Regions from separate parts of the Homo sapiens genome. Here region 2 is linked to region 1. The links come from fine-mapping of genetic effects on gene expression. A gene starts in region 1. The other region holds a variant in brackets. All regions are shown on one strand. Distances are between the middles of the regions.

What was found. PIP is the estimated chance that this variant, and not a neighbour inherited with it, causes the effect.
Region 2: its variant is the best candidate, but not a certain one, in a credible set for the expression of HOXD-AS2 in visceral fat (GTEx, PIP 0.65).

What each region holds. Positions count from the first base shown.
Region 1 is chr2:176,134,468-176,138,860 of GRCh38, forward strand. HOXD-AS2 (HOXD cluster antisense RNA 2) reads right to left here and starts at 2,631. Exons shown (of 3, transcript NR_038435.1): 1 at 2,154-2,631; 2 at 852-955; 3 at 374-483. LOC401021 (a long non-coding RNA gene) reads left to right here and starts at 2,145. Exons shown (of 2, transcript NR_148241.1): 1 at 2,145-2,532.
Region 2 is chr2:177,122,918-177,127,310 of GRCh38, forward strand. The region is part of intron 1 of LOC105373760 (a long non-coding RNA gene); the gene reads right to left. Among named protein-coding and RNA genes, the nearest start is that of MIR4444-1, 88 kb to the right of the region's middle. The variant T/A (reference allele first, on the strand shown) is at 1,769.

The DNA of each region.
Region 1 (4,393 bases):
GAAACACACAAAAGAGAATGTGGGTCTCAGTGGTTTTCAGAGAAGTCAGTTCAAGGATGCCATTTTGTGAGGTTCCACAAAGCCCAATATATCGCTTACCTCTGCACAAGGGGAGAAAAATGCAAATATGGCTGCTTTTCAGTGCAAAGTGTCTTTGCGGCCCTCATTCCCCAAGTTGAAAGGGAGGGTCATAAAGCTCTGCTTTTATTTGGGTAAGATGGGGAGAGGATAATGAGGCAAATTGACTATTGAGATTATTTCTCAGAAAATTTTGGAATTAAACAAGTTATTTGCTCAATTCCACATGTATATACCAGTATACTAGTGTGAAGTCTTCTGGGCTTCTGAGGGCCCAAAAACTTGCCCCATCTGCTTGTGTAATTTAAAATATTGTTTTATTCTGTAACACAGAAGGAAGTGCTATTTCACATCCAAGCTTCTTGTGTCCTCTGCTTCCCCCGTGTTTGCTGAATCCTTGGGCATCTAGGGATGGACATGGGAGGAGAGAGAACATTTTAATGGGCCCTGGCTGCTGCTGCGGTTCCCTCCAGCAAAGTTAGGGCCCATTGGCTTTTTTCTAGAAAGAATATGACTTTTGCTGACAGATGGCAGCAAAAGTCCTTTAATCAAAAACATCCAAGGTCATCAGAACTTTTTCAAGGGATAACAAATGGCCTGCTCCAGAGGGTGCTGTGCTGCTTCCTGCTTCAGTCCACATCCACTTAGGCACTTACTGGGTGTGCAGATGTTAATAGCAGAGAACTTATACACAGGTATCTGATGCAAACATTTGTAACATAGTACTGGAAGTGTAAAGACACTGTCTTTAAAAGGATGGGGGGTGGTGTTACCTCTTTCAGGAAGGTTCTGAAGGCTGCATGGCTATGCCCATGAGGGGAATGCTGGAGGCCAGCCAAGGACATTTACTTTCAGGGGGAGTTCACCAGAGCAGTTCCTGTGAAAAATATAAAGGGAATGTGACACCGGCCTTTGAGGAAAAGGAATTATTCTTTTTTCTAGGCTGATCTGAGGAAGTCACTCTTTTCCTGAACAAATGTCTTTTCAGTATTGCGTTGAACAAATTTTTCAATTGGGAAATATTTGGGGGCAAGGGGAGAGGGGAGAACTAGAATTAAACTCCATAAAAATGAGAATTGCTCTTAGAGGAGGACGTAGAGCAAGGAGTTTCAGAAGGGATCCAGAAACCATAACCCTGTCTGTCCAGAAAGATGTTTCTGTGGAGAAAGACCAGGTGGTAGAGTTTCAAACGGGTATTTCGGAGAGGTTGACAAGTACCTAAAACCATTTGAAGCCTTTAAGCTGGTTGGTGATTATCCTACTGCAGAACCTCCCGGGAATGGGAGGGACCCCAATTTATGTTGGAGTGGTGTGTTGGGGGCACATTTTCTTGGCCTGCAGATCCCTCGTTTTCTTCCCAAGGTAACTGGGGCTGGCTTGCAAGATGAGAGGGAGGAGGGGAAACCGAAAGTGGTTGGCTGCCTCTGGGGACAGGCCTTTTCCTGAGGGGAGAGGAGGAGAAGCCAAGTGACTAGCACAGGGTGAGAGATGGGAGGAGGTAGCTGTGGGGATCGCTTCCCCAGAGCGTGAGCAGTACATTGAGTTCATTTCCCTCCTTCACGATGGCCAACTGCGCAGAGGTTTTGAGCCAAACCAAAGAAAAGAACACACACACACACACACACACACACACACACACACACGCACACACACAAATAAATCCTAGAAAAAGAAACAGAGGAGGCGGGGAGGGAGGGAAGAACCACGAAGGGAAGAAAAAGGGAAAGGTGAAGAGGGACAGAGAAAGAGAAGGGAGGAAGGAGAGAGAGAATGGAGAGAGAGAGGAGGAGGAGAAGGAAGAGAGGAGGCGGGGGAGAGAGAAAGCAGAAGAGGAAAAAACATGGCGCTTGCGAGCTGTATGTGCAAAATCCGCAAGGAATTGCAGTAAATTCCTTTTTGTTTGAAGAAAATTTACAACTTGGTAATAGACCTTTTTATGACCTATTTGCGGTCGTCATTGGCTGCGGCTGGTCATGTGCAGGCGCCGCTCGCCTTCACGGCCTTTTTCCTGATTTCCCCGGCGAATTTCCCCCCGCATTCTGCTTTCCCAGAGCCTCACCCCCTCTTTTTCTAACCTTTGTCTCTGCAGAGGTGGGCTCCAGTCACCGGCTGCGGGATTGCGGAGTCCGCCGCGGCCTCGGCTCCCGCCCGGCGCCCGGCCTGGCCCCACCGCCGCTCACTCGGTCCGCATCGCCGCCACCTCCGGAGCTGGTGGGGAGCCCGGCGAGGGAGGGCCTGGAAGGGGCCCTGGGCGCCGAGTCCCCCGCCGGCGCCGACACCGCCTGCCAGGAGCAGCCGGCCTGCTCGAGGTGACTGCAGCCGCGCGGTTCTGGCGCGGCTTCTTCACCAACATGAGCGGGTCTCTGCGTCCGAGAGTGAGCGCAGCCGGGCAGCGCCTAGTGGATTACAGCAGACGCCCGGACCGACCGCCGCCTGTAGCTCGGCAGCCTTCGGGTAAGAATCGCCCCCTCCCCGCTCCCCAGCATGCCACCAAGAAGCCTGGGGCGCCGACCCCCTTGGGCAGCTCAGTCCGGCTGCTCCCCTACATTTCCCGGGGAAGTGGGGGGTCGCTGTCTAAGCCCCTTCCCCCAATCACTTCGTTCCTAGGGCGTCCCCTGGGGCCTGGGGTGGAGTCCGGCTGGGTTCAGAAGTCTAAGGGGGCAGTATTATTTCAAAAATTCTGAGATACGGGTAGCCACAGACAGGATCCCACTGCCTAGATGGAGAGCCCCTCAATCCTACCCTAGGAAAGTGTATAGACGGGTTACTACTGAACATCTCCACTTTGCTGGGGGTCACTAAAGGCATTTTATATAGAGCTGTGGTTTTTGTGGTTTACCTGTGGCCGTGGCCAGAGGTTCCTGGGAGGCTAACAGGTGTTTTTTGAGGGTTGGGGCTTGGGTGGGGGTGGGGTGAATTCTCTGTTTCTAGGATGTGCTTGGTGTTTGAATCTAGGCTTTAGTGACTGATGCTGGTTAATTTCTAGGGTTGATGGTTTATTGGGCCTTGTGTTGTATGAGATGGAATTTTAAATATTTTTAAATGTTTCTCTAGTTCTTAGAGAAATTTTTAAGCAACTCAAGATAGGCTCTTCCCGCATATGATAATCCGTCAGGTGAATTTGGATTCTTTTATATCACAAAATGAATCCATGTTTTGGGAGGTAATGGTATCAGAATATATGGTGCAGGTCTTGGTAAAAACCCAATAGATCTTTGAGAAATACAAGACATCTCTGTGTTGAAACATCGTGTGTTTCTTATTTGCCAGAGTAGGAAAAGAGTAGATCTTTTTGCTCTCTAAATGTATTGATGGGTTGTGTTTTTTTTCCCACCTGCTAATAAATATTACATTGCAACATTCTTCCCTCAACTTCAAAACTGCTGAACTGAAACAATATGCATAAAAGAAAATCCTTTGCAGAAGAAAAAAAGCTATTTTCTCCCACTGATTTTGAATGGCACTTGCGGATGCAGTTCGCAAATCCTATTGCCTATTCCCTCATGAACATTGTGAAATGAAACCTTTGGACAGTCTGCCGCATTGCGCATGAGACTGCCTGCGCAAGGCAAGGGTATGGTTCCCAAAGCACCCAGTGGTAAATCCTAACTTATTATTCCCTTAAAATTCCAATGTAACAACGTGGGCCATAAAAGAGTTTCTGAACAAAACATGTCATCTTTGTGGAAAGGTGTTTTTCGTAATTAATGATGGAATCATGCTCATTTCAAAATGGAGGTCCACGATTTGTGGCCAGCTGATGCCTGCAAATTATCCTGGATCACTAACTCTGATCACTTACAAATAAGAAACTTGAGTGATTGTTATTTTATTTGGAGTGTTTGTATTTTGTAATTATTTCTCTACTACAGTACAATGACCTTTGAGGTCATTCTTTGATCGGGGTAAAAAACATTCCCCATTGAAAAGCAGGCACCTGGATAGTGGCTTCTAGGCCCTGCCAGGTAGATTCGGAGCAGGAAGAGTCCCTAGGTCGGATGGTACCCGGGTGGGTGTGGGGGTGTGGCCCTGATGGCCAAGCTCTATGTTCAGAGCTTCAGTGCTTTTCCCTGGTTCTGTAGCACAGCGCGCTTGAGTGACTAAAAACCTGGGTTGGGTGCAGGTCCGATTACGCAGCAGAGGTTGATGTCATGGGCAGATTTGGAAGACTTGAGGGGTTCTTTGTAAGCCCCGTGGTAGCATTAATTCTTATTGGAACGAAATGGTCGATTGCATCTAAGGGAAATAATCCACAAATCACAGGAACTCTCGGGCCATTAGTCCACAAGAAAACTAGTTCGTGCTGTTGCCACTA
Region 2 (4,393 bases), 990 kb after region 1:
TGCATTTCTCTAACTTCCCATATCTGAGGAAGCACCTGAAACACAGAGCTCAAGACCAGCACCACTTAGCTAAAAGTCTGGTCAAAAGATCACATTGATGATAATTGTAAATGAACTGACTATAGGGTCCAAAAGATTCCATGTTGCATTCAGAGTAAAATGCAACATGGCTTTTTGTGTGGCTCCTGCTGACCTCTCTAGGAACACCTCCCCCCACTCTGCACCAAATATTTTAGAGAGCTCAAGCATCTCTTCCTCCCAGAAACATTCCTAAAGTCCTAGCCTCCTCCCCATCTCCACTGTATCTACCACAAGGTACTCTAATTTTCTGCTGAACTGATCGCTCCTCCTAGAGGCCAGTGGTTCTCAAGCTTTATGGAGAATCAGATTTAGTGGGTCTGGGGTAAGGCAAGAGAATATGCAATTCTAACAAGTTTCCAGGGATGCCAATGCTGCTGGATAGAGATCACACCTTAAGAATATCTGCTCTAACCTACCAGTTCTAACAAGAAAAAAATCCCAATTTACTTTATTTTGTATCCCTGATACCTAACACAGTATGGCATACAGTAGACAGTCAAACGACATTTGTTGAATAGAAATAATGTATGAACTAGTGAATCCCTTGTTATTTTGTGTTGAATGGAATGACAAATTGGTCTCCAAGTGTAAGAACCCAAGACACTCCTCCATCAGTATTAAGTTACCTCTTATAATAAGTAGAGGGAAAGTGCTCCTCTCCTGGCCTCTGAGCTCCAGCATACTATCTGGTGCTGCTGAAAGTACAACTTGAAAATGCAATTTATTTTAGACAGGTTCTCACTCTGTTGCCCAGCCTGCAATGCAGTGATGCAATCATAGCTCACTGCAGCCTCAAACTCCTGGACTCAAGCGATCTTCCTTCCTCAGCCACCCAAGCAGCTGGGACTACAGGCACATACCACCGCACCTGGCTACAATAATTTTTGCATTTTTTGTAGAGATGGGAGTCTGATCTAAATTTTATTTTTAATACATAAAATTATGAAAGGCTTGATTTGGCTGAAGACAAAAATGTAAACAAACCTTCTCTATGGTTAAATATTCCTTCTTTAATAGTATTCATATGCAAATAAGTAAAAGAAGACAAGTAAGATACTGGCATTAGAAATATGTCTTGAAGGCCACTAAGTTTATTTCAAAAAAAGTATGAAGTGCTCTTTCCCAAGATCAATACCTTAAATCAAGTTGACCAAATTTATTTGATAATCTGAGAGTTTTGTTTAAAGTACAGATACCCAGGACCCTCCTGTGGAGAGTCTAAATTTCAACAGCATATAATGGGGCCCCCAGAAATCAGTCTTTTTTAACAAGTTTCAGGTGGGGCCCACATAGTGATTGCTTTAAGCTGCCCATCAATTAACTAACTAATTAACAAGCAGCTAGTACTGAGAACCACTGCAGGAACTCACGTAAAAATTTTCTCATGAAACTATTTTTGGCCTAATATTTTTCACCTGGAACAGGTTAGGTCATGGTGCAAAAAGCCAGGTTCTCAATCTGGAATGTTACTTTCTTGCCCTTTGGTTTCCTGGAGGGAATAAATGTGTAAGGCATTTCTACCACAGATCAAGTTTTGCGTCATGACACAATGGGGCATGAGCCACTCCAACAATAACAATAGAACCATTAGTCAAAAGACCTCAGGAAAAAGGGAAACCTGTCACAGGATGACGACAATTACCCAATTATTCTGAACATAAAAAGTAAACCTTTAATATTTGTCTTA[T/A]GGCATCAGAACTATGGCATGATCTGGAGAAGTAATTAGCATATTGGAATTTTATGCTGGTACAATGTCAGGGTAAAATAAAGGTGGGCTCTGGAATGTACGGTGGGGAGGGTGGAACTAGAAATGGTCTTGCATTTGAGTACAAATATGGTGGTATCAACAATTAACTTTCCGCTAAAAAATAGTTTTCCTGTTTATACGTATGTACTGGTAGAAAAAAATTTGATGTTGTTAGATATTATGTTTGGAATAGGACTTCCTTTGAGATAAGGTTATTTAAGATGATAATTTTAATTCAGAAAGTGAAATGTTCTATCTTTTAAAAAATCAGATTATCTTGAAATCATACGTGCTTTCCTACCTCACTTCACTCACTTGCCTTCATGTTAAATCTCAAGAATAAAATCCAAGCATTTCAGCAAATCACTCTACATTGACCTCTGCCCAAAGATCTAGAGGAGGCCAGTCAGGCTTCGAAAGGACTGAGGCACTTCGGTTCATTAAATTGTTTAATATGAGCACTAATTTTTACAATCGTGTAATAAAAGTAGGTGTTTTCCAAAATGAACCGTAGACAAAGATAGAAAAGAATATATGCCTCTAGGACACACACCCATGGGGACTTTACAGCTAAGAAGTCGTTATTTTGCTAAAAATTAGTGTTGCAAAGTGCCATTCATTGTTAGCATAGCACCAGCACATAGGAGTCACCAGATGAATGTTTGATGACATTAGTTTTCTTTTATAACTGCCCATGTCTTTCATTAAACAATGACCATCAAAGAAATTATTTCTTACAAAAGAACAATTTGAGGAATGAGAGGCTGCAAATGTACAAACTACAGTTCACTGCATTTTTAATAAGAATTTTGAGCACAATAAAGATTTTATATCCAAATATATTATGAAAAAATGGATGCTAATGCTATGTTAAAAGGTTACCACACTAGGTTTATTTGCCTCTTTCTTCTTTTCTCATATCCTAAGTCATAGGCTTTAAAACAAAATCAGGTCTGAGATTCATGTAATCGTCCCCATTTTAGTGTCTGTGCCGTCTTTGGGCATCACTTGGTCCTGTCCGCCAGTGATCATGAAGGGAGCCTGGTCTGCACTGGCTAGGAAGGGAGGCATTGCAGCAGGCTCTGCCTCGGTCCACGCTTCACTCCCACCCGATCCCCCACTGACTCAGCTCATCTTCAACATCTTGTGTGGAAGATAAAATCATTGTGATGTACAGAAAAATCTACACCGAAAACAGGAATAAGAACAACCTCCCTCTCTCCTATCACCTGAATTCACATGGCTACTTAAAGTTAGTAAATTCAATAAAATTAGAGTTTAGTTCCTCAGTTGCAGTAGCCACACTTCCAGTACTCAATAGCCGTCTGTGCCTAGTGGCTACCATATTCATTATTGCAGGGATAGGAAGGTCTATTGGACAGCGCTAGTCTCCAGAGGGCCAGCTAAGGAGGGGAATAACGGTCCCCTAACCACTTGACACGTTAGCCAAGGAGGAGGAAAGAAAGAAACAGTGTAGTTCCCTTTTTTCCTTAGAAAACTGTTTTACTTCCACCAAAACTAGCCTGAGTGGATTCCATCCTTTCTCTTCCCCAAATCTTGCCTCCTTCCTGACTACAGTGGGGAAAGAAGTGGTAGTGTGTGAGAGATTTTGAAAGCAATTTTAAAAAACCAAAACAATGCATATATCTTGTATTTCGAATGGGCCAGGCACATTGGCACAGTGGCTCATGCCTGTAATCCCAGCACTTTGGGAGGCCAAGGTGGGAGGATCACCTGAGGCCAAGAGTTCAAGACCAGCCTGAGCAAGATGGTGAGACCCTGTTTGTAAAAAAAAAAAAAAAAAAAAAATTAATTAGCCAGGTGTGGTGGCACACACCTGTGGTCCCAGCTACTTGGGAGGCTGAGGCAGGAGGAACCCTTAAGCCCACAAGTTCTAGGCTGCAGTGAGCCGTGATTTTGCCACTGTGCTACAGCCTAGGCGAGAGAGACAGACCTCATCTCTTTTTTTTTTTTAAGTGATATGCCTGCATTTGCATTGCTGGCTCATGCTTGAAACCAGCTCACTGAGGTAACTTCTATATGGAAGTTGCTCCTGTAATCCCTAGGTGTTCCACATGGGCACATTGATTCAATTGAAGTTATTTTAGTAAGGCAATCATCATACTGATTGTTACTTGGAATTCGTATTCATGCTGCTTTAAGTAATAGCCTTTAACTTAATTTCAAAGCTTTAAAATAATTGTTTTAATATTGATGAAGACCGGTCTTGCTACCAATCTTAAATAAAAATCTTATTGGCAACAATCCTACATATATTAGAATATAAAAAGAATAATAACCAATAGTAATGAAGTCATTTTTTTCTTCTTCATGTCTGAAGAGCACACCCTTCTATTTCCAACACACATGGGTGAAGCTGAAGAGACTGACTATGGTAGACATTAGTAACATTCCCCCGTATTCAAGTGTTCTCCACTTCAGGACACACAAAGATTATAATTCCCCCATCCCCCTTATTTTATACATAGCTATGTAATTATTTCTGGCCAATGAAATGAGAAAAGGAAGTGAAATGCATTGTTTCCAGGCAAAAGCAGTAATTGG